Homo sapiens: one gene and its partners. The protein of the gene in region 1 purifies or fractionates together with the protein of each later gene. This does not show direct contact. Each region holds a gene or a part of one and is shown in the gene's direction. Other genes may lie near its edges.

The links.
Region 2: the proteins of MYO6 (region 1) and SGMS2 purify together in Homo sapiens (co-immunoprecipitation; one large-scale study listed by IntAct). This does not show direct contact.
Region 3: the proteins of MYO6 (region 1) and NHLRC2 fractionate together in Homo sapiens (co-fractionation; one large-scale study listed by BioGRID). This does not show direct contact.
Region 4: the proteins of MYO6 (region 1) and PICALM purify together in Homo sapiens (affinity purification with mass spectrometry; 2 studies listed by BioGRID and IntAct, with this or other methods). This does not show direct contact.
Region 5: the proteins of MYO6 (region 1) and LRCH1 purify together in Homo sapiens (affinity purification with mass spectrometry; one large-scale study listed by BioGRID and IntAct). This does not show direct contact.
Region 6: the proteins of MYO6 (region 1) and COPB2 purify together in Homo sapiens (affinity purification with mass spectrometry, with the first as the bait; one study listed by BioGRID). This does not show direct contact.
Region 7: the proteins of MYO6 (region 1) and CUEDC1 purify together in Homo sapiens (co-immunoprecipitation; 3 studies listed by BioGRID and IntAct, with this or other methods). This does not show direct contact.

Annotation. Positions count from the first base shown.
Region 1 is NC_000006.12:75,755,739-75,759,238, forward strand, and holds part of MYO6 (unconventional myosin-VI), read left to right. Parts: intron 1-3,500. UniProt on the Homo sapiens protein: Myosins are actin-based motor molecules with ATPase activity. Unconventional myosins serve in intracellular movements. Myosin 6 is a reverse-direction motor protein that moves towards the minus-end of actin filaments.
Region 2 is NC_000004.12:107,890,932-107,894,431, forward strand, and holds part of SGMS2 (phosphatidylcholine:ceramide cholinephosphotransferase 2), read left to right. Parts: intron 1-2,135; exon of another isoform or gene 2,136-2,727; intron 2,728-3,500. UniProt on the Homo sapiens protein: Sphingomyelin synthase that primarily contributes to sphingomyelin synthesis and homeostasis at the plasma membrane.
Region 3 is NC_000010.11:113,871,661-113,875,160, forward strand, and holds part of NHLRC2 (NHL repeat-containing protein 2), read left to right. Parts: intron 1-3,500. UniProt on the Homo sapiens protein: Required for normal embryonic development.
Region 4 is NC_000011.10:86,062,585-86,066,084, reverse strand, and holds part of PICALM (phosphatidylinositol-binding clathrin assembly protein), read left to right. Parts: intron 1-2,208; exon of another isoform or gene 2,209-3,500. UniProt on the Homo sapiens protein: Cytoplasmic adapter protein that plays a critical role in clathrin-mediated endocytosis which is important in processes such as internalization of cell receptors, synaptic transmission or removal of apoptotic cells.
Region 5 is NC_000013.11:46,689,170-46,692,669, forward strand, and holds part of LRCH1 (leucine-rich repeat and calponin homology domain-containing protein 1), read left to right. Parts: coding exon 1-27; intron 28-3,366; coding exon 3,367-3,472; intron 3,473-3,500. UniProt on the Homo sapiens protein: Acts as a negative regulator of GTPase CDC42 by sequestering CDC42-guanine exchange factor DOCK8. Probably by preventing CDC42 activation, negatively regulates CD4(+) T-cell migration.
Region 6 is NC_000003.12:139,365,648-139,369,147, reverse strand, and holds part of COPB2 (coatomer subunit beta'), read left to right. Parts: intron 1-859; coding exon 860-1,003; intron 1,004-2,002; coding exon 2,003-2,133; intron 2,134-2,372; coding exon 2,373-2,580; intron 2,581-3,500. UniProt on the Homo sapiens protein: The coatomer is a cytosolic protein complex that binds to dilysine motifs and reversibly associates with Golgi non-clathrin-coated vesicles, which further mediate biosynthetic protein transport from the ER, via the Golgi up to the trans Golgi network.
Region 7 is NC_000017.11:57,864,913-57,868,412, reverse strand, and holds part of CUEDC1 (CUE domain-containing protein 1), read left to right. Parts: intron 1-169; coding exon 170-263; intron 264-720; exon of another isoform or gene 721-790; intron 791-997; coding exon 998-1,056; exon of another isoform or gene 1,057-1,075; intron 1,076-1,868; coding exon 1,869-1,936; 3' UTR 1,937-1,939; intron 1,940-3,500.

The DNA of each region.
Region 1 (3,500 bases):
TAAAACGTACTGTAGTGTCTACCACGGACCAGGCACTATTCTAAGTTCTAGGGATACAGTGATTAAATTAAGACCAAGCCCCTGTACTGACATTTTATTGTTGTTTTGAATTAAGTTAATTATAGACTCTTCATACTAGGATGTAATCAACAGGGCTGACCCTAAAGTTGGGAAATAGGCAGTTGTCAAAATTGTGCAATTTAAAGGCTACTGCATGACTTACTTGCTCTGGAATATTTCTGACCTATCTGTCGAAGACTCCCAGACTATTGGGTTATGGCGCTGTTACCAACCTGCTTTGATAAATATAAGTATGTTCCATCATTTATCACACTTTTAGCAAAGAAAACTGAGAGAAAATAAATGGGAACTAGAATTGGACACGGTGATGCTTACCTGTAGTCCTAGCTACTCAGGCGGCTGAGGCAGGAGGAATGCTTGAGCCCAGGTGTTTGAGGCCAGCCTAGGCAACATAGCCAGATTCTGTCTCAAAAAAAAAAAACAACAAGCAAGCAAAAAACAAATGGGACTAGGACTGATATGTTGGTGTTGTAAGAGAAGAGGTTAGCAAAGTATAATTTTAATAGCAGCTATTGTTTTTTCTTTTTTTTTGAGACGGAGTCTCGCTCTGTCACCCAGGCTGGAGTGCAGTGGTGCAATCTTGGCTCACTGCAACTTCCGCCTCTCGGGTTCAAGCGATTCCCCTGCCTCAGCCTCCTGAGTAGCCGGGATTACAGGTGCTCACGACCATGCCTGGCTAATTTTTGTATTTGTAGTAGAGGTGGGGTTTCACCATGTTGGCCAGGCTGGTCTCGAACTTCTGACTTCAGGTGATCTGCCCGCCTTCGCCTCCCAAACTGCTGAGATTACAGGCATGAGCCACTGTGCCTGGCCAATAGCAGCTATTGTTTATTGAGCTTTTACTACCATGTCAGATATTATGCCAAGTGAGTATTTTTGTATACATTAGCTCAATCACTGTGTCACCTCAGTGGTGCTGGTGTTATGACCTTCATTTTACAGATTAGGAAACTGAGGGGCAGAGATGTTAAATTTGCTCAAGCTTATTTGGTGGTGCTGGAATTTGGGTCTCTGCTAGTACTAAGCAGGTAGTAGATACTAATGTGGAAAGAGTACTTATGTGTGTTGTGTGTGTATATATATATATATATACACATATATATACACACCATATATAGTGTGTATATATGTGTATATATGTATACACACATATATAGTGTGTATATATGTATACACACATATATAGTGTGTATATATGTATACACACATATATAGTGTGTATATATGTGTATATATGTATACACACATATATAGTGTGTATATATATGTATACGCAATATGTATTGTGTATATATGTGTATATATGTATATACAAGAGTACTTATGTGTGTTGTGTGTGTGTATGTATATACACACATATATACACACATATATTGTGTATATATGTATATAGACATATATACATATACATATATAGACATACATACATATGTGTGTGTATATATGTATATAGACATATACACAATATATGTGTGTGTATGTATACACACACATATACATATAGAACATATATACATATACATATAGAACATCAGAAGTCTGTGTGTGTGTGTGTATATATATGTATACACATATATATACACACACACACATAGAGACAGACTTCTGATGTTCTGCTAGGATGTGTGACACATCACAGAGGTGGGCGACCTTGGTGTGGGAGTGATGGGTGTGGGGAGTCAGGATAGCTTGTTGGGTGAGGGGTGGGAATTGGGGTTGGAAGGAGATGGGAGGGTATTACTTGCCTAACTACTTGGTCGTCAGGCTTAATCCTCTCTCTGACAGCCCTGGGGTTCCAGAGTTGCGTTTAAGCACAGTGCTTTCTTGTCCAGCTCCTGGGTAAGAGGATAGGCAGACCTGAGGCAATCCTGGTTTTGTCACTCATTAACTTGGTCAAATTATTTCATTTCTCTAGGCTTCAGTTTTCTCATCTATAAAATGGAAGTAACAATATTACCTACCTGGTGTGGTTCTTATGAGGATTGAATTAGATAATAATACATGTAAAACACAGATCACACTGGCTAGCACATAGTGTACATTCATTATTATTGTTGTTACTGTGTTTTTTTTTGTCATGTTTAATGTGGAATTTTCATCGAAAAGCAAGAAGAGCAATATATTAGTGATTTGGTTGGAATCTTGAAGTTGGCTTTTTTTTTTTTTTTTTTTTTTTGAGATGGAGTCTCGTTCTGTTGCCCAGGCTGGAGTGCAGTAGCGCGATCTTGGCTCACCACACCTTCTGCCTCCCAGGTTCAAGCAATTCTCCTGCCTCAGCTTCCCGAGTAGCTGGGACTACAGGCACGTGCCACCATGCCCAGCCAATTTTTGTATTTTTAGTAGACACGGGGTTTCACTATGTTGGCAAGCTTCCCTTTTGATTTATGTGCAAACTGGAATTAGAGAACTACTAGCTTAAACTTTTTCTTTATCTTTTGGTTAGGGAGGGCTTCAACAAGATTAACGACAATTTGCTTGGGTTAACCAGGCAGTATGTGGTAGAGGGAAGTGAAATATGTTACCAGAATCTCTTCATTGACTTTTTTTTAAAGCTTATTTGGGGCTTATAGCATTGTATGGAGAAGACAATGCAGTGTTAAATTTCGCACCTAAATTAGATTGTAATGACTGTTTCAGCTTTTTGTTTGTTTGTTTGTTTGAGATGGAGTCTCGCTCTGTCACCCAGGCTGGAGTGCAGTGTTGCCATCTCAGCTCACTGCAAGCTCCGCCTCCTGGGTTCACGCCATTCTCCTGCCTCAGCCTCCCAAGTAGCTGGGACTACAGGCTCCCGCCACCACGCCCAGCTAATTTTTCTTATTTAGTAGAGATGGGGTTTCACTGTGTTAGCCAGGATGGTCTTGCTCTCCTGACCTCGTGATCTGCCCGACTCGGCCTCCCAGAGTGTTGGGATTACAGGCGTGAGCCACCGCGCCTGGCCTGTTTCAGCTTTTTAACTAGCTTCATTCGGAGGTGATTAGTTAATATTAGTTAAAATTGTTAATTTTTAACGATTATACAAATAGTAAAAATGTATAAATACATGTTTGTATAGATCTTTTTTTTTTTTTGAGATGTAGTCTCACCCTGTTGCCCACGCTGGAGTGCAGTGGCATGATCTCAGCTCACTGCAATCTCCCCCTCCCAGGTTCAAGCGATTCTAATGTCTCAGCCTCCTGAGTAGCTGGGATCACAGGCATGTGCCACCATGCCCGGCTAATTTTTATATTTTTAGTGGAGACGGGGTTTCACCATGTTGGCCAGGCTGGTCTCGAACTCCTGACCTCAGCTGAGCCACCCGCCTCAGTCTCCCAAAGTGCTGGGATTACAGGAGTGAGCCACAGCGCCCGGCCGTTTCTATAGATCCGGTCATTTCTATAGATCTTAAAAACTTTCAAAAACTTAGATTTCTTTAGATAATG
Region 2 (3,500 bases), on another chromosome or scaffold:
AAACTCAGGCTGTCATGGTGGGAAAAAAAAGGCAGAACCCTAGCTATTGAAATGCAGTGTGAGGTGACTGCCTTTGCTTTCAGTTTGACCTGGCTAGCAAAAAGGTGGCTTTGTTATGTAAATAAAGCCCCTTAAGTAGTCAAAATTAAAATTCTTTCCTTTTTTTTCTTTTTTTTTCCTTTTTCTGGCTGTTTTTCTCCCCCCCATTATACCACCTTACCATACTACCTTTTTTGTGTGTGTCTATGAGAATTTAGCCACTTCAGTGGCCTTGTTCCCCATAATTTGGAACTTTCCTTCGGATTTGATCAAGTCGGAAGAAGTTGGTCAAACCCAATGGGAAAAAGACTGAAACAACAAGAAAAAGAGAAACAATAAAAAAAAACAGTTAAGCAAAAAAAAAATGATTGCACAACTTATATGATTACTGAGCACTCTAATGGTAAAGACATTAAGACCAGCTGGTTGTTGATTTTAACTTTAGCCAAGACAAACCCCAATTTAGTTATCTAGGGGTTGTTGGGTCTCAGGCTGAAGACTGCTTTCTATCCTAGTGAAGCAGCCTTGTTGTCTGGGGTGATACCTGAGGTTCATTGTCTCATGCAGAGGAAATCAAGGACATGGACACACAAGGAGTGAGGTTAAAAGCAGAGGATTAATAGGCAAAAGGAAAAGAAGAACTTTCTCCTGCAGAGAGAGGGGTCCCAAATGGGTTTCTGCTTCCTCAGTGAAATGCAGGTTTTATAGATGAGCTTGAGGAGGTGGTGTTTGATTTACATAGGGCATGAAAGATTGGTTGGACCAGGTGTGCCATTTGCATAAGGGTGCAAAAAGCTGGCCACCCCCACCCTAATGTTTTATTATGCAAATGGATTATCTTCCTGGCCCACACCATGTTGCCTGTTTCTTTACACATGGTGACAAAAAGGAAGATGGAGCCTACACGTTGAACATACCTGGCCCCCAGGTAGCCATTTTGTATTGGCACAGCTGCTGGCAGTAACCTGTGCAAGCTTCCAGCTTGCTTATCTATGTCTGCAGCTCAATTTTTCAGGCTGCTCTTCATTAGACAAAAGAAGTTTCTCGGGCTGCTTTCTGTTAGAAGGGAAGCCTTGCCAAGAACTCTTACCCTCACTATCTGCCTAAATAACTTCTATCTCCTGTGTCACTAGGAGCAGGAAAAAAAAAAAAAAACCTCATCTTCCCTGTTGGAAGGGAAACTCCGTAAAGGAGTTACCTACCTTCCATCATCATGGAAGCAGGAAAAACTTGCCTGCCTTGTGTTGGAAGCAACTAAAACTCCAAAAAAAAAAAAAAAAAAAAAAAGGTTGTACAGCAAAATAAACTTTAGATCTCAACCAGAATTGGGGAGATCAGGGATTCTCTGGAATGGGTGCTTCCAGGCCTCAGCAAATTGTCCTATTGGTTTAAGCCATAAAGATAGCCCAAGGTTGAACCAAGCACTGATAGGAGATTTGTTAAAGGTCAGGGGCACCTCCACTCAGAATCCCTCTGTGGTTACCAAAATGTGAACCCTGAAAATCTGAGACAGGTCTCAGTTAATTTAGAAAGTTTATTTTGCCAAGGTTGAGGTTGCACACCCATGACACAGCCTCGGGAGGTCTTGAAGACATGTGCCCAAGGTGGTCAGAGCACAGTTTGGTTTCATACATTTTAGGGGGATATGAGACATCAATCAACATATGTAAGATGAACATTGGTTCGGTCCGGAAAGGTGGGACAACTCAAAGTGGGGAGAGGCCTTCCAGGTCATAGGTAGATAAGAGATAAATGGTTGCATTCTTTTGGGTTTCTGATTAGCCTCTCCAAAGAAGGCAATCAGATATGCATTTATCTCCATGAGCAGATGTGTGACTTTGAATAGAATGGGAGGCAGGTTTGCCCTAAGCAGTTCCCAGCTTGACTTTTTCCTTTAGCTGAGTGATTTTGGGACCCCGAGATATTTTCCTTTCAAAATAGGAATGAATATGTTGTGATCATTATCTTGATGACAAACATTTCGTCCCAAGATTTGTTCACACATGATGAATGTGCTATGTATATTTAATCTTAATGAAATCCCAAGGAAAATATTAATTTTAACACTAATAACGATAAATGGGCATTGTACTCACATAGTGTTCTTACTCCCAGGGGCACAAAGCTCTTCACAATTAATTATTTCAGTCATTCTCATAGCAGTCCCATGAGGTGGGTGGCTGAGTGTGTCCTCTTGGAAAAAAAAAAGAAAAAAGGTTACTAATTGGATTTTCTTCTGTTCCACATTCTGTGTTCTAGAACCGAGTAGCTACCTTATAAAGACCATCTGTACATCCACTGTGAAATGGAGTTTCAAAATCACAAGCTTCTTTCCCACATGAACATAAGACTAGGAGCACATATGGAAGAGTAAAGTTGAAGGGAATTTGGATGATGATTTGGCAAGATGCTGTAAGTGGATTAGGCAAGGCTGCTAAAGAGAGACAGGAAATGGCTGTGTTAGTGCTTCGGACCTCCGTTAGAAGTAGCAGTTCATGGTGTTGAAGGTTTGTTGTTGAAAATACCTTCCTGAGGCACCTCTTCATTGTGCTTATTCTTCCCACAACATTGTGCCAAGACACTGTCAAGCCTGGGCCTGTCAAAGCCTGGGATGTCAAAGGCCTGGGTCTTTCTCATCCTGCTGTAATGTATTGATAGCTGGGGGCTCTGCAGAAGGACAAGGGAAAGGTGAGATGTTTATAATTCTCAGTAGTACCTTTTAGCTAGTCTCATGCTCCCTTATCCCCCATTTCTCTACCAGGCCAGCTTTCCACATGCTTTTGCTTTCTCAGAAACAGAGCCTGTGTGTGGACACATCTTGTCCCTGGAGCAGGGAAACAGTACAGCTAAACCTCTCACTTTACCTAGTGATCAGCTCATCCCTCTCCTTCCTTTCACAATATGCCATTCAGTCTTCTCCAGTAGTCTTTCATCATTTTAGTCCTGTCTCTTTGGTTAGACTGCAAGCTCTTTGGCTGAATGTTCAGGTCAGGTGTTTTTCACTCCTTTTAATTTGCCCTACATAGCCTTCAGCACTGGGGCATTTAGGTGCACAGTAAACACTTGTGGTTTATCTATTTGCCACCCATAATTGTAAACAGACATTGCCTGTACATATTGACTGCCATTTTCGCTGTGTTTTTTTTCTTTCATTAAATAAAGGCTTAGCTGTCATCACTTTGAGTTTGTCCTCCTCAGTTTTCCCTGAAGTTACCCTGAAACGGGGAGGCAGGGGAGGGGGGAGGTCCTTTAAAATGCAGTGGATTGTGCTTAAGTTGAGCAGTGTATCCAGGGAGAGGACTAATTACGAGGTTTGAAAACCTCATCAGGTGGCTGGTTTCTGTAGCAGGACTAAAAGACTGCTCTCCTAAATTGAGAACAGCTGGGGCTGTGTGCTAGCAAGTATAAAAGAGGTGGCAGTGGTGCCCCGTGTCCGAAAGAAGTGTGTGCTCTCTGGAGCC
Region 3 (3,500 bases), on another chromosome or scaffold:
TGTAAGTAATTATATGTCAATAAACCTAATGATTAAAAAGAATCTATCTGTGCTACTTCTGGGTTTGGAGGAGGATGGTGGCTACCTGATCTTGAATCTCCCCACTGTCCCTCCCCTCTGTTCCAAACAATAAAAAAGGGGAGAACAAGTAAAATCTCACTTGGCCCTGCATTTCACAATACTAGGAGACAGAGAATATCATGGCCTTGACATTAGATGGAAGTTCAGAAATAAACTAAATTCCCATAAAGGTTCTATTGCTGTAAGTCTGTGGATGCCAAGAACAAGTGTAGGGGAGACTTAAAAGACTCCATGAGAACAAGCAGAGTGGTTCAGAGTATTTAGACAACGCACAAACAGAATAGTCTCCTTACCCCCAGAAAGAGAAGCTCCAATACAAAGTATAAAATACTGAACACAGGTTTGGACATACTAGACCATATCACCAGCTCTTACAAGAGTGCAGGACAAGGAATTGAAGCCTCAGAGAAGCATTGCTCCTGGGAGATAATCAGCTATATAAGAAAGATGTGGTTTCCCTTGGAGATAGGCCACTGAAGGGAAAAAAGCGTATATGAAGGAAAAGGTAAGGTTCTAATGGAAACAAAAGAGAAAGAAGATATATCAACCCCTCCTTACACCAATGCTATTCATCAATGAAACTGCCCAGAAAAAGGGAACTGTCAGAAGAGGGCACTCTCAAACTAGGAACCCTATTCGCAAAATGAACAGGAATAGAAAAAAGCAGATCACATCTATATAAAAACTACTGCAAAAGAAGCTGAAAATGCAATTCAGAGTTAAAATGCTGATACAAAATTGACAAAACTGTAACACCTTGCTTCATACTGGATTAAATATCCTTAGTCAGCATTTAGGAATAATGAAAAAAAAACAGCTTGAATCAGAAATTTCAAAATAAGAAATGGACAAAAAAGAAACAGGGAAATGAGTGTTAATTGAATCCAGAAAAGAGAAGACAAATTCAAAATTGTATTACAAATGAAAACTAAATTTGACCAAGGGACAATAAATTTGTATAAAAATTTATTAAGGGGCATTAAAAGCAGGGAGGGAAACCCCAGAGAATGAAAATGAGCTAAAAAAAAAAAAAAAGTTAAAAGGTTTAGAGAAAAAAATGATTGAATTGGAAAACAGGCAGAGGAGGTCCAACATAAGACTACTTGGAGACCTTCAAGAAAATCAGAACAGCTGACTGGAACAAATATCTAAAATTAGAATCCAAGAAAACTTTCTGGAAAGAAAAGAAACCTTGAATCTACATATTGAAAGGGCCTACCAGGTACCGGGGGTGATTGACCCAGAACAGTCCAAGAAGTATCCTAGTAAAATTATTATACTTTAAACATTGAAAAACAAAGAACGTAACTTACAAAGACATGTAAGTTAGACTGGCCATGCTTTTCACAAATAACGTACAAAGCAAGGCAACAGTAGAGTGACATTTCAGGAATCTTAATGAGTGTAAACCATAAACCAAAGAGATTATATCCAACCATTTGTCCTTCAAGAATCAATCAAGGTTAAAGAAAAACAGTTTGAATGTCCCAAAACTCAGAGAATACTGTGCACATGTGCCCTTTCTGGTGAATCTACTATAGGGAGAGCTAGAGAACCATGGGTGAGTAGGGAAACTGCTAATGGATGGATGGAGATTTTATACATGTAGAGCTAACACCAAAACTAAGATGTAGAGTTTTGGTATATTAGTCATAGTTTGATCAGAGAAGCACAACTGGGTATAATAATGAGAGAACTAATAGAGAATTCATTATAGGTAGTTGACCTTATGTTATTGTGGAGCTACATGGCTAACTAGTATATGTGAGGCTGTTGCTTTTGTGTGCTCCTGCAACCTACCTAAGTTTACTAACTTTTCACAGTCTTCAAGCAGAGGTGTGTGTGCGTATGTTCTTGTGCTTTGGTTTGGAATTAAAGTTGTAATTACTGGCAAATTATATCTCCTGATGGCAGGTCAGGCAGTTGAGAAGGAAAGATGGATATAAAGTAGCAGAGAACAAGGGCAAACCAGAAAGAACGTGCAAACATGAACTAGAACTTGCAAGGATAAACTGAAACCCATGTAAGCTTTAGTTTAGATGATGAAGTGGAGCAAAACACTCATCTGGCCCAGAAATTAGAGACGCGGAAGGAGGAGATCTACAACCCTTATATTCTTATTGCTTTCATTTGCCTTGCATATCTTTTTCTACCCCTTTACTTTTAGTCTTTCTGATTCACATTTTCTTAGATGTATCTTTTATGTAAAGAACTTATCCAAATCTTTTTCTTTTAATAATGAGTTAAGCCCATTGGTACTTATTCATATGACTGGTAATGTACAAGTATTATGTGTATTTGGTTATATTTGTTGTGTTTATCAACATGATGCACTTTCTTTGCTGTTTTATTTTCATAATCTCTTCTGATATTTATAAATGTTTACATTTATCTTTTATTAATCTTTGTACTTACAACTTTAAAAAATAATTATAGCAAAATTTGTTGAAATTTTACTCTACACTAGGTACTATGCTAAATGCCTTACACAGATTATCTCTTTTAATCCACCTGACTTATAAGGCATTTGCTGTTATTTTCCTCGTTTTGCAAATGAGAAAACAGATGAACAGGTTAAGTAACTTGCCCAAGGTAACAGGTGTGCAGTCCTTCCCACTCCTCCCCACCACCTTTACCCACATCCCCCAGGCAACCATTCCTCATTGCATCTTTTTTCCCAGCTGCTTTCAAGGCATGTGTTTGTGTGTGTGTGTGTGTGTGTGTGTGTGTGTGTGTGTGTGTGTGTGTGTGTGTTTAGCCTTTGATTTTCAGCAGTTTGTTTATGATGTGTCTAGACATGGTTTTAATGTATTTTATTTTGTGTGTGTTGAGCTTGAATTCTCTAAATTTATATATTTAATCAAATTTTGAAAGTTGGGACATTACTCAGTTATTTTTTTCTGCCCCAATCTTATTTATTCACTTTTTCTGGGATTCCAGTATACTTATTTAGATATTTTGAAACTGTTCCACAGGTCCCTGAGGTTCTGTTTATTTTTTTTCAATCTTCTTTCTCTCTTTATGTTCTTTAGATTGGATTAATTTCTGTTGAGCTGTCTTCAGGTTCATTAACCTTTTCTTTGTCATGTCCTTTTTGCCAATGAGATCATCCAGTGAACTTGTGGTATTTTTCAGTTCTAACATTTTTAGTTACTTTTTATAATTTCCATTTCTCTGTTTTTATTTCCTGTCTTTTTACTTCATTTGTGTTTTTCTTTACCTCATGGAGCATAGTTATCTAGTTGCTTGAAAGTCTTTGGTAAGTCGAACATCTGCTTTATCTTGGCATCGGTATCTGTTGCTTGTTTTTTTTGCCCCCTACCTTGATAACTGACCATATTTCCTTGTTCTTTTCTTTGAATATCAGGTAATTTTTTATTGTATCCTGGACGTTGGAATGTGACGATATGTGAACTCTG
Region 4 (3,500 bases), on another chromosome or scaffold:
TTTTGTCTTTTAGGAATTTTTCTTTATAGTGAAAGCTTAGTTTATGTGCACCTTTTAATGCCCCTAGCAACTGATGCTTATTTATATGAATCTAATGAAAATGATTTCATTTTAAAATGGCAGCATTTAACAAAAAATATGCTTAGGACTGTTGTTTTTCGTATAAGCCCTTAGAGTGTGGAGGTGGTTTCTGTCAGTTTCTCGCCAAGATCTTTCCACATTAGGAAGTGATTATTAATAATTCATGAATTATGGCTTAATTCATACTACATTATATACTTACTGAAGAAAGATTTTTTTGCTTTGCTTATACTGTAGGTGTTAGTGGATAATAGTGTTGACTAGCATCCCTAGTGTGAAAGAGTTGTCAAACTTGAAATATGTTTGTAAAAATAAACACGATTTCCGTTTAATCTTAGGCCTTTAGTAGCCATAATCAAGGTAGAGGAATAGCAGCCCTTATATTTGAAGAACTTCAGTTTTCCAGGCACTTTCTCATCATCTCATTTAATCCTGTCTCACAGCTGGAGGTGGGGGCAATTCATATACATAGAAAGTAGCTTCTAATTCCATTTAGCAGTACAGAATGCTTAAAAGAACCATAATTATTGCAGGATAGAAAAAACAAATTTTTTTTTTTTTTGAGACGGAGTCTCGCTCTGTCGCCAGGCTGGAGTGCAGTGGTGCGATCTTGGCTCACTGCAACCTCTGCCTCCCAGGTTCAAGAGATTCTGCCTCAGCCTCTTGAGTAGCTGTGACTACAGGCGCATGCCACCACACCCAGCTAATTTTTGTATTTTTAGTAGAGATGGGGTTTCACCATGTTGGCCAGGATGGTCTGGATCTCTTGACCACATGATTCGCCCGCCTCGGCCTCCCAAAGGGCTGGGATTACAGACGTGTGAGCCACTGTGCCTGGCCCACAATTTTTAATTTATAACTTCTTAATATAAAAATCATTTTTATCTGATCTTACAATCTTTAGTCTTAACCCCACCCCTTTTTTTGGATACAGGGTCTTGCTCTGTCTCTGGTGTGCAGTGGCAGGATCATGGCTCACTGCAGCCTTATCCTCCTCAGGCTCAAGAAATCCTCCCACATCAGTCTCCCAAGTAGCTGGGACTATAGGCATGTGCCACCACGCCTGGTTAATTAAAGAAACTTTTTATTTTTGGAGAGATGGGGGTCTCCCTATGTGGCCCAGGCTGGTCTTGAACTCCTGGGCTCAAGTAATCCTCTTGCCTCAGCCTCCCAGAGTGCTGGGATTACAGGTGTGAGCCAGCATGCCTGGCCCTTATCCTATTTTTTGATATGAATTCTTAATTTTCTTTATTCTTATTTACTATCGTTGGACATTTATATTTTGACATATTTCACTGAAATGTAATATTTATACTAATGGCTGTAATGTCTCCTTTTTTTTTTTTTTTTTTAAAATGAGGTGGGTCTTACTCTGTTGCCCAGGCTGGAGTGCAGTGGTGGAATCACATCTCACTGCAGCCTTGACTTCCCGGGTTCAGACAATCTTTCTGAGTACCTGGGACCACAGGCATCTGCTACCACGCACAGCTAATTTTTAATTTTTATACAGACAGGGTCTCCTTGTGTTGCTCGGGCAGGTCTCAAACTCCTGGGCTCAAGGATCCTCTCTACCAGCTGAGCCTCCTAAAGTGCTGGGATTATAGGTGTGAGTCACCATATCCTGTATGTCTCTGTTTTTTAATTCATATTTTCCCCAGTTAATTTACAGGGACATTTCATTTCAACCACTGCCTTATCTTTTCTAAAACAAAATCAAGATCAAGTTCTTACTAAGCATCCATTATCAACATATCTCTGGTCGATACAGCATGGTTATTTGTATGTTGTGAACTGGATCTAGAAATTGGAAATAAGTTTTTAAAAAGTAGGATTTGAATATTTTGCATATGTAGAATTTGTATTTGGGCTAGTGGTTTGTGTAACTACATTAAAAATGCGTATAACATACCAGACTGTACCTGAATTAATTCCCTTTTAAAGCACAAATGGTTTTTAATGTCTCAGTTAATAATATCTTATGGGTGCTTAGTTTGCGTATTGTCAAGAAGGATCTGGTAACTAGGATGTGATTTCTAAGAAGATGCATGTAAGGAAGAAATAAAGTAGAAGATCTGTCCCAGGATATCTTTTATTTAAAAGTAAGGTAACTGGGACTTTTTTTTTTTCCAAAAGGATCTTGTTTTAAGAAGACAGTTATTTTGTAATTAATGTCTGGGCTTCCTATTCTTTCCTGTAAGAATTAGTCATATGATTTATATTTTCATTTTTCATTATCCTTACTAGTCTTTTAGTAGTTTTGCAATACAGAAAATAGAAATAGAGTTATCAAAGTGGTAGTAATGAGTAAGATTTGATCACACATGTCAAATGCCTGAGGCATTTTATTTATTTTTATTTTTTCTGTCGCCATGGCAGAACAGAATGCCTGAGGTATATAATAAAATTCACAAATGTATCCTTTTTCCTCCCAGATATGTCTAGTTAAGTTTCTGAACAGTATGTGTTTTAAAAGAGGAACTCTAAAGAGAACTTAATATTCAACTATTTTTTGTAGCCGCTTATTCATAATTAGCAAATGAATTCTGAAATACTTTTGTAATTATTGTTCCCTGATGGATTTATTTGCTATGTTAAGAAATAGTATAAGACTTTGGGCATCTATATACCTTTTGTGTTTACTGAATATTTTATATATCTGGATAATTTTTAAAGGTGTCTTTGAATTTAAAGTTACTATGGCAGGTGAGAAGTGAAACACTTCATAAGATGTGATTGACATTTTTCTTTCATACGCTTTGTGAGACATTTATATGAAACATTTACTTTGATGTTTAAAAAACACTGATTGTTTAAAAATAATCTATTTTAATAATCAGAATTGCTTTCATTTAAAAATATTTGTTTATTTGGCCATGATAATCATTTAGAATAGTTAATGTGAAAGTTCACCGTAGACATAGTTGTTTCTCCTTTGTTTTCTTCAGCTCTGAAATGGTTAATTTCATGGTTTCTCACTTAAAATAAAGAAGTAAGAAAAATAAACTTACAGGCTTCTTGGCAAGAGGTTAGAGCCCTACCAGGAAGAAGTAGCCTTAGACTTTCAAAGTAAAGTCTTAGTATTTGCTCTTCCTGTTCTTTTGGTAGCTAAAGTGGCATTTCCGTTACTTTGTGTTCTGTCTTAGTATGTTCCCAGTTAAACTGCTTTATACGTTTCTCTAGAGAATCAAAATTTTGGACTTGACCTTTTAGTATTTTGTATGTTCACTGTGTATGTGAATCATTTTGGGCAGTTAGATAGTTCTTTAAAAGAGAATCTTGATGAACCTAAGCCTTTGTATTAAAAATTATGTTCAGAGTTGTGATTTGTTAGATTATCAGAAAATGAAGGATTTCTCAAGTTATATTATTATCAAGATATATTATATCCCCCACGAAAGTGGTACATTTGTTAAAATTGA
Region 5 (3,500 bases), on another chromosome or scaffold:
GGAGATAAGCGATTATCTGCCACCGAGGTAAAGTTAGTGATCAGATTCTTTTCCTTCTGTACTTCTAGACATATCTACCAGTGTTCATTGAACTCCTTTCTGTTAAAGGGCATCGATTCATTTGTATATTCATGTGATATTCGTAAAAGTGATTTGTATATTCATGTGATTTGAAATCCTCGAAGTGTTATATAAATATTAGCTGTTGTTACTTATTCTGCATCTTTAATATCTTTAATATTTTGTAAATGCCTCAAGAGTGGAGTCTGTATCTTCTCCTCTCCTACACATTATCTAAAATATTATTGAGTGCTCAATAAATATTACAAAATGGCTAAGTAGTACGCAAGTGCCCGTGAAGCACTTTTATACATACGCTTATTTTTCAGTAATAGAGTAATTTAGAAAAACATTGTTATACATATGCGTAAATGTTAAGGAATCAACTGTACATTTTATTTTAATAGTTGATCCACAGGAAATGCATTTATGAGTAGCTATAGTTTTTATAACAATGTTTGTTTTCCTCAGACTCTTAGATTGTGTTCTGTTCTGTTCTGTTCAGTTAATTGGATACAAGTTTGGTTACTTGCAAGCTAACAGGCCTCACACATTAGAACTTCCTATAGTGGTTATAAATCATGCTTTGATAACTGATTTATTATCTCACATGTAGTCTATTAGAGTCCCCAAAATCTAACACTAATGTATCATTAAATGGAGCTTCTTGGCCTCAGGGATCTAGAAAGGAGTGGTAGGAAAAGTATCAGGTGCTCTTCTTTTTTTGAGGGAAGTTACTTTCTGTAGTTACTAAGTTAACATTATAATACTGTGAAATTGCAGTTAATAGGCCAGTCACCCCATCAAAGAAACTCACATTTTTTTCTATGTATGACTCCAGGAAAAAAACCTTTCTCCAATTCTCCTCAAGTCGTTGAATTTTAATAGGTAGCTAAGGTATTTGAATTTATTTTTCACAAAATACTCTATATAGCAGTATATTAAAAAGTGGGATTCTTTATCTTTAAAAATCCTTCTAATATAGAGCATTTTGAAAAGAAGAAGAGTTAGTAGGCAGAGAAGGCCAGTGTCAATAAAAGAAAATAACCCATAGGAAGGCACATGAATAGTTTACCGTGCTTCAGTGGGAGAGAGGGGATACTAAACACATTGCTTTAGTTGCATTTTAATTCATCCTCTTCAACTCCTAAGTCCTCGCAAATGGACCATTGTTTCAGAAATTACTCACCCTAAGTATATTTTCTGTTAAATTAAACAGACTCTGCTTTATCTCTCTTCTAAGGCTAATTAAACTCATTAATAAAACATTACATAAAGAACTTCATTATCCTTTTGTTGTCACTTAAGCATAAGTAGGATGCTAATATCATTCTAAAAGGAGCCCAAGGATTTATTCTGTGCCTTTTAATTAGATGCATATCTTTGGAATTTTGCTAAATTTTTAAGATGAGAGGTGGGTAGAAAGAGAAGGGAATACAGAAAAGATTATATTCAACAGAATGAAATGCACACATCTTGCCTTTGGCCTTTCCTTGTCTTATATTACAGCCTCCTTTCCTAAGTACACCTCCAAGAAATTTATTTTTTAGAGTGATAAGTGTTCCAAATTATCTTACATAGCTTCCTATTTTCACTTGGTTTGGCAAAGATTTTACCATCTATGATCAGGTGATCTTACTTCCCATTTAGATGACATTGTGGGGTTCAGGGATCACACCTCATTCTTTTTCTTTGGCTGCTGCCATTGATTGATTTAGCATTTGTCACTGAGAGATTAAAAACATCTTTTTATCAAGATAAACAGGAAAGTGTGGAGCTCTATGAATATTTGTTGAATGAATGAAATGCATGCCTAATTTCTGCCAGTTTCTAAACAATCTGTGCATATGTCCAAAAGTAAACAAGGACAGACTCTGAAAACCATACCTCAAGAACTTAGGAGCAAGCCACAATCTCCTGAAATGTGTTTTGTGGAGGTTCCTGATTTTTGAGATTTGGAAAGCTATTTCCTAAGTAGCAACAGTAAAATGGAGACATAGGAAAATAAACCAGGCTCCATATTTCAGAATCATAGGTTTTCTGAATAAACGTCATCAGCTACTGTGGGAAAGGAAGCCCTCAGAGAGAACTAATCCAATTATTAAAGCCGAAGCTTTCTTCCAAAAATCACACAGAGCAGTTCTTTTTAACTACTACAGTTGTTTAGCATTTTTATATATGTGATGCAGCTTCCTCAGCCTAAAACAGAGAAATAAAACAGGCACCCGTATTAGTTCATTCTTGTGTTGCTATAAAGAAATGCCCGAGGGTCGATAATTTATAAAGAAAAGAGGTTTAGTTGGCTTACAGTTCTGCAGGCTGTACACAAAGCATGTGACCAGCAACTGCTACTGGCAAGGGCCTCAGGGTTGAAGGTGAAGGGAGTGCCTCCTGTCACATGGTGACAGCCAGAGCAAGAAAGCAACGAGGTTGGGGGAGAGCAACGGAGGAGGTGCCATGCACTTTTTTTTGTTTTTTTAAGACGGAGTCTTGTTCTCTTGCCAGGCTGGAGTGCAGTGGCGCGATCTTGGCTCACTGCAACCTCTGCCTCCCGGGTTCAAGTGATTCTCCTGCCTCAGCCTCCCTTATAGCTAGGACTATAGGTGTGTGCCACCACGCCCAGCTAATTTTTGTATTTTTAGTAGAGATGGGGTTTCACCATGTTGGCCAGGATGGTCTCGATCTCTTGATCTTGTGATCCACCTGCCTCAGCCTCCCAAAGTGCTGGGATTACAGGTGTGAGCCACCACGCCTGGCTGATGCCATGTACTTTCAAACAACCAGATCTCACATGAACGCATAGCAAGAACTGCATAGACCCTTCTTGAGGTATCCACCCCCAAAACCCAAACACTTTCCACCAGGCCCCACCTCCAGCATTGGGGATTACATTTCAACATGAGATTTGGAGGGGACATACATCCAAACTGTGTATCAGTACCTGACAAGATTTCAGCTTAAAACAGAGAGAAGAAAACACAGAGAAGCCCATAAGTGTTAGCTCCATGAATTTTCACAATGTGAACACACCCGTATAACCAGCTTCCAGTTCAAGAAACAGAACTTTACCAGCACCCCAGAAAGCCCCACCCCGACCCCAAGAATAACCTCTTCCTAATTTTAAATACCATGGATTAGTTTTGCATTTTTTGAACTTACATAAGTGGAATTGACCTTTGTATCTGGCAACTTATATTCAATATGATATTTGTGAGAATCACAGGATGTTGTTTTATTACATAGCATTCTCCTTATCTACATTGATAACACTTCTCTTGAGTTAAACAGTGCACTGTATCTTTTTAGCCTTCTGACGAAGACACTGTTAGCCTCAATGTGCCAATGTCAAACATCATGGAAGAAGAACAGATCATCAAGGAGGACTCGTGCCATCGCCTTAGCCCCGTTAAAGGTCTGAGAATAAAAATGTGGAGAAAGTG
Region 6 (3,500 bases), on another chromosome or scaffold:
GCCATTTAAAATATAAAACAGCACTTAGAATTTAAATAACTTCTTATACTTTTGAAATACACATTGTCTACGGCCTCATTAGGATACAACAATCCTGATTTTCTGAGCAATTGGAGGTAAGTGGCAGTGCCATTTTGACAGGAAAAAAGCATGCTTTGAGAACAAGAAGTCAGAGAATTCTTGACTTGGAAATGCCTTCTTCCACATAGTTCAGAAAACCTTTTCATACATTTTGATGATAGCTGCTTGAACTTGAGGTGACCATCTCCAGTGACAAAGTGTTTACCTTTAGAACTGCCCGCTGCTTTGACAGTTTTCACTGTCAGGAGATTATCTTTGGAAACAAACCAGCTTTTCTGGGGTCTGGTTCTAGAGCACGCATCCTCAGTGGGTGTAAACATTGACTTGGGGGCTTACTCTTTATGAATAAAGCATAGCTATACATATGTATATGCATTATATATGTATATCTGTGGTATTAAAATTTCATTGGGGGAGGTGATTAGAAAAATGTCCAGAAAGACTTCTAGGGAGGGTGGGTGAAAATGAAAAAAATAAAAAAGGTGATAAACACTGTTCTAGAGCAAGAGGGAATAGGCTACTGGTCCTCTGTGTAGCACATTCAGTGTTTACTGACAGCTCTCCTTTCCTGTCTCCCTTTGGTCTTTCCATTGCTAGGCTAAATAGCATAGCCACATAATAGCTGGCCACCCTCCCAAATAATGCCACATAAAATTGTTAAGTGAATACTTATCATCTTGATATAAGAAGGTAAATGTTGTAAGAAACCAAGTATGTGCAGTTTGTCATATCCACTCAGAAATCCAAATCAGTTGTCTATGATTTTGTTGTGTTGCAGATTTTCTGGTCTGACTCTGGAGAGCTAGTCTGTATTGCTACTGAGGAATCATTTTTTATCCTTAAGTATCTGTCAGAAAAAGTCTTGGCTGCACAGGAAACACATGAGGGAGTTACTGAAGATGGCATTGAAGATGCCTTTGAGGTAATTGCATCAGCACAACTTTCGCTTTCAGCTTTGTTTTTAAATGATTTATATTCTTACAACAGACTTTACTGATTTTAACATTTCGTTATAAATTAGGTGTAGGGAGACAGCATTTAAGGATTTCTGGTGAAATGTGAAAAATTAAAATCGTAACTCATAGATCAAAATTTAAAATAAATATGTTTAAAAGAAATTTGTACTTTGATTTTAAGAATTCTTTAGACTTACTTTGATATCTTTCAGTAAAGAAATTATAGTTGTTTTGGTCCTAAGACTATTTAGTCAGTGATTTAAATAAGCTCCCAAATGGTAAATCATTTATTGTGCAGATGTCCTAGATTTTGTGAAATACTTAATATTTCATTGTCATGTTATGAAGGGTCTAAGTTTAGATCAGTATTCTTTTATATCATGATTTTGACCCAACAATGAGATTTCACATTACAAATACTAATCTAGGAATCTGTTCTGTGTTTTGTTTTGTTTTTTTTTCTGTTTTGAGCCTAAGGGTTATATTGAGTAGGAATCTGTTCTTAAATGAAGAAAGAAATTCCAGCGGGGTGCAGTGGCTCACACCTATAATCCCAGCACTTTGGGAGGCCGAGGTGGGCAGATCACTTGAGGTCAGGAGTCTAAGACCAGCCTGGCCAGCATGGTGAAACCCTGTCTCTACGAAAAACATAAGAATTAGCCAGGCATGGTGGCGGGCGCCTGTAATCCCAGATACTTGGGAGGCTGAGGCAGGAGAATCACTTGAATCCGGGAGGTAGAAGTTGGCAGTGAGCAGAGGTTACGCCACTGTACTACAGCCTGGGCAACAGAGACTTCATCTCAAAAAAAAAAAAAAATTCCAAGGAAAATTTTTTTTTTCTAGAAATAGGAAGGATTTTACTTTGCATTCCTTATTCTGCCATATCACCCTCAGATATATTCAGCTTTTTATTGAGAGATTTCTGATGTTGGATAAAGTAATTGTCTTTATTTTTCTTTCTGCAGGTTCTTGGTGAGATTCAGGAAATTGTGAAAACAGGGCTTTGGGTAGGCGATTGCTTCATTTACACAAGTTCTGTGAACAGATTAAATTATTATGTTGGAGGAGAAATAGTCACCATTGCCCACTTGGACAGGTACCTGAGTATCATTTTGCATTTGTCCTAAATTTTAAAGTGTGTTTAGAAAAATCTGTTGCTGGCTTGTAGCAATGATAGGCTGATTTTTCAGTGTTATAGTTTTAGTAGGTTGCCTATTGTTAACCAGAATTGTGTCAATCAAATGGGAAGGTTTTGAGCAAGAGGGAGATTGGCGGGGTGTGTGTTTGTGTAATTGCAGATTTGAATTTCTAACTTGGTTTCTGTTTCTTTTATAGGACGATGTATCTCCTAGGCTACATTCCTAAAGACAACAGGCTTTATCTGGGGGATAAAGAATTGAACATCATTAGCTATTCCCTGCTGGTTTCAGTCCTGGAATACCAGACAGCTGTCATGCGGAGGGACTTTAGCATGGCTGATAAGGTCCTTCCTACCATTCCAAAAGAACAGAGGACCAGAGTTGCACACTTTTTGGAAAAGCAGGTAAGAGGTTTTGTTTTTTTCTTTTTGTTTTTTAAAACTTGCAATTTGAAAGCAAATTATTATGGAGTTGAAAAACTTTATTTCTTAATTGCCAACTGATTTCCTGTGGCAATAGAATTTCTCCTGTGAGTTTAAGGCACTTATTACAGCACATGATACACCCTTCTTACACTCTTCCTTCTCCTTTCTCAGTGCCCCCTTTAAATGTTGGAGGTGATTTTCAGTCTTCCTTTTCTGTGCACTTATTTTCCAGTCTCCTGATATTTTCATTTCTACACTGCATTTTTAGCTTTATCCCATCTGCTTTTTAAAAAAAAATGATTAAAATACATATAAAATGTACCATGACATGACTTTTTCTTATGTAATGTTTTTTAAGCAAAGTTACATATGTGCAAAGCATAAAGTAAGTTTTGCAAAGCTTAAGAAAAAAATCAGCCCTCCTTTTTGCTTTCTACTCCCTAGAGGTAATTATTTTATCTAATTCTTTTGGTATTTATTTCCATATCTCTAAATAACTTGAGGTATAGCAGTTTCTTCATTTCTTAGCTTTAGGCATTTCTTGTGACTTCCCCCTCTGTAGAAGATGAGAATTTCGCCTTCTTTCATTCCCCTGCGTCTACCACATACATGCCACTTTCCTATCCTTTATCTCTCAGAATAGTTCTAATTTTGATTGATCACTACTCAAATGTTTACATTATTATGGCTATGTAATCACTGCTCACAGGTGAACATGTAGCATATTATCTAGCTTTCCTTTCCTGCAATTGTTTGTTTTCCCTAGTTTATAATTGTCTTTTTCCCCCCTTTGCTTAATTTTCTATGTACCTGTGGTTAATTCTCCCTGGACTTTGCTGGTTCTCCAGAGTTCCTGAAGATCTCCTTTCAGTTTGCTTAGTCTCCTTCAGACTGCACTG
Region 7 (3,500 bases), on another chromosome or scaffold:
AGGGGTCTGCGATTCCTGTCATCTCTCCCTCCTCAGCTCCCACCCTTGCCTGCCCCCTGCTCCCTCTCCGGGGGGCCTTGGTCCTCCCCTGGCCTTTCCCACACCTGGGAGGAGGCCATCTGGTGTGCTGGCTGCTGAGAGAATGACTCACAGGTCTCTCTGCCCCCAGCCACCCGGAGGAAACTGTTTGAACTTGCCCGAGCCTTCTCAGAGAAGACCAAAATGAGGAAGTCAAAGAGGAAACACTTGTTGAAGCATCAGTCGTATCCTTTCCAGCCTGGCACTGGTGGGGGTGGTGGAAGCCAAGGGCCATGGAGCAAGACCCCTGTTGGACTCCCTGCAGCTGTGCCCTCCCCTGGGAGTGGAACCCGGCTCTGTGGCCTTCCCTTCCTCCTCCCCTCTCCTCCATGAGCTTGGCCACCAGTCCACTGCCCGTCTCTCGTTGCCAACCAGGGACCAGGCCTAGGGAGCAGGGCAGCAGCTCCTGTCTCCCTTCTGTAGGCCCAGAAGTTGTCCTATTAACTTTTTTTTTGGTCTGAGGTTATGTACTTCTTGGGAGAAAAAGTGGTTCTTCCATCAATATCAAACCTTCCCTTCATTTCTCTAGTTGAACTGGTGCACGAGTCCTCCTCACTCCAAGCATGTTGGCCCTCCCTTCCTCGAGTAGAAATACGGCTTTCCACCTTTTTATCAGAACTCCTATTCATGCTTCTCAAACAGGGCCTAGGATAGCAGAGGCTCAGCAGCCAGAGGGAAACAGGGAGGAAGCTGTTTCTCCATCCCCAGAGATGTAAGCTGGGCGAGAGTGTCAGGGCCTGGCCATACCACTGACCTCAGGAAAATGAGCCTGGGGGACAGTACTAAGGGTGTGGGGGGTCAGGTGGGTGTGTCAGGTACCTCCAGAGCTTTGAGGGGTGGGGCAGAGAGTCAGTGGGACTGGGAGGACTAGGGCAGTGTCCCCTCATCCCTGGGACGGTTTTCCTGAATGGCCTGGCAGGCTGGGGGCTGCCGCGTCAACAGCCAACCTCCTGGATGATGTGGAGGGCCACGCGTGTGGTGAGGCTGGAGGGGAGTCGTAAGCTCCAACTTCTCTATGATCGGTGATCTCCCAGCGGAGTTCCTGGGTGTTTCATGGGAGCACCCGCCCTGTCCCCTGGAGGAACACACTGAGGGTTGGTGGGCAGGTGACCCAAAGATATGGATCCCCCTGACTTGGTCGACATTGCTTCCCCCTTTCTGCAACCCCTGAAAAGGGGCCCTAGCCCTACTTCCACCTAGATGTGTACCTGTAGCATGAAGTGCCAGGTACTGTTTCTGGGGAATATTCTTTTGGGTGTGAGGTGGCAGACAGGCCTGCCCCCATGGGGGACCCTCGGCCTGAGAACCAAGCACTGGGCAGCTTCAGTCTGTGGGCCCAGAGGCTTCTCAACTTTCACCCAGTCCCTTCCAAAGGCCACGTGGGCCAGAAGACTCTGCCTCAGACCCTCCTGGGCCCGCAGCTGAACCCTGATCCTCATGCCACATTCGAGGGTCAGGAGGCATCCAGAAACAAGGACTGGAAGGGCCTCAGAGGTCATCTAGATAGTCCAGCTTTTCCATCCCATTTTATAGATGAGGAAATTTGAGGCCCAAAGACGAGGGGAGAACTTGTCCAAGGTCTCAGAGCTCAGTGGTGGACCCTGGCCAGCACCTGAGTGTCCTGCTGCCTCTCTCCCTGGACCCATGCATCGTCTACCTGGGGGGATCTGCATGGGTCCCAAATGAAGGGGGCAGAGAGAGTCGGGTCAGCTCTCTTGCCCAGTCTAGGGGCCGTGCCTGAGCGAGGCCCTGCAGGGTAGAGGATGAGGCAGCTTCCCTCTCCTTTTCAGATGAAGACTTCCGGGGCAGGCGTCAGGAGGCACCCAAGGTGGAGGAAGGCCTGCGAGAAGGACAGTAAGAGGTAAGGCCTGGAGCCATAGCAACCCAGGGACTGCCCAAGGCCAGGGCCCCCCACACTATGCACCCCACATGTCCTCCCAGGTGTCCAGAGGCGCTGGGCTCAGGCAACTGGGTAGCACAGGCCCCACGTGTCTTCCCTCATAGTTGCGGCAGGGACACGGGCGTGGGAACTAGTTCATTGCATGTCTTTTTTGGTTATTTATTCATTTGACAAAAGATGAGCACACCTGCCTATGACAGATGCTGAGAACAGGAAAACAAAATCAGCTTTGACCTTGAAGAGTTTACAGTCCAGTTGAGAAGACAGTCCAGGACACACGTAGCACACTGAGAGGATGATTTAAGAAAAACTGGCTGGGCACGGTGTCCCATGCCTGTAATCCCAGCACTTTGGGAGGCCAAGGTGGGTGGATCAGCTGAGGTCAGGAGTTCGAGACCAGCCTGGCCAACATGGTGAAACCCTGTCTCTGCTAAAAATACAAAAATTAGCCTGGCGTGGTGGCAAGCGCCTGTAATCCCAGCTACTTGGGAGGCTGAGGCAGGAGAATCACTTGAATCTGGGAGGCGGAGGTGGCAGTGAGCTGAGATCGCGCCATTGCACACCAGCCTGGGCGACAAGAGTGAAACTTCATCTCAAAAAAAAAAAAAAAAGAAAAAGAAAAACTGAGGTGGTCTCAACCCGGCTGTGCACACACACAACTCTCTCCAGCCCCCTGCTTGGGTTGGGTGGGCTGGGATCTGCCACACCAGGATGAGGAAACCCTCCTGAGGCAGCGGTTTCTGGCTGAAGCCCCAGGGCTCCAAGCCATTTCTCCTCCTCGCTTCCTGTGCACCCTCTTGGGGAGAAAAAGAAAATACCAAGGCCTCCTCCAGGAGTTGGCCAAGACAGCTGTCCCTTTTCCAGCCCCCGTTTACCATGGGAGAGGGGAAGCTGCCCGGCCTTCCCCAGCCACTTGTTTGGTCCCAGTGGGCAGCATCTACAAGGCTTTCTTGAGTTGATGGTGTGGCAGGTATGGCCCTGTGTCAGACGATGGAGAAATACTCACTTGCCTCAGGATAGTCACAATGGAGGGAAACCGGGAACAAGTAAATACAAGTGCCCTCTCCTCTCTGCCTGGGCAGCTGGCCCCCACACCCACTCCACCTGACTCCCTACCACATCTCCCACCAGGCACTGCAGCCCCTTCTATTCCCCTCAGGCTTTCCTCAAACACAAAGCCGCGGCCCACTTCCCACTGTCCTGGAATGCCCAGATAGAGCCTGCCGGGGAATCGCCTCCACTGTCACCCCACGCTGCTACTATCTCCACGCCCTTCTCCTTCCTACTGGTCCCCAGGGAGAACGGGTCCTGTCCAAACCACCCCTACATCAGAAACTTGCTCATCATTCATTCATTCATTCATTCATTCATTCATTTTGAGACAGAGTCTCGCTCTGTTGCCCAGGCTGGAGTGCAGTGGCACAATCTTGGCTCATTGCAACCTTCACCTCTCAGGTTCAAGCGATTCTCCTGCCTCAGCCTCCCGAGTAGCTGGGATTATAGGCACCCACTATCTTGCCTG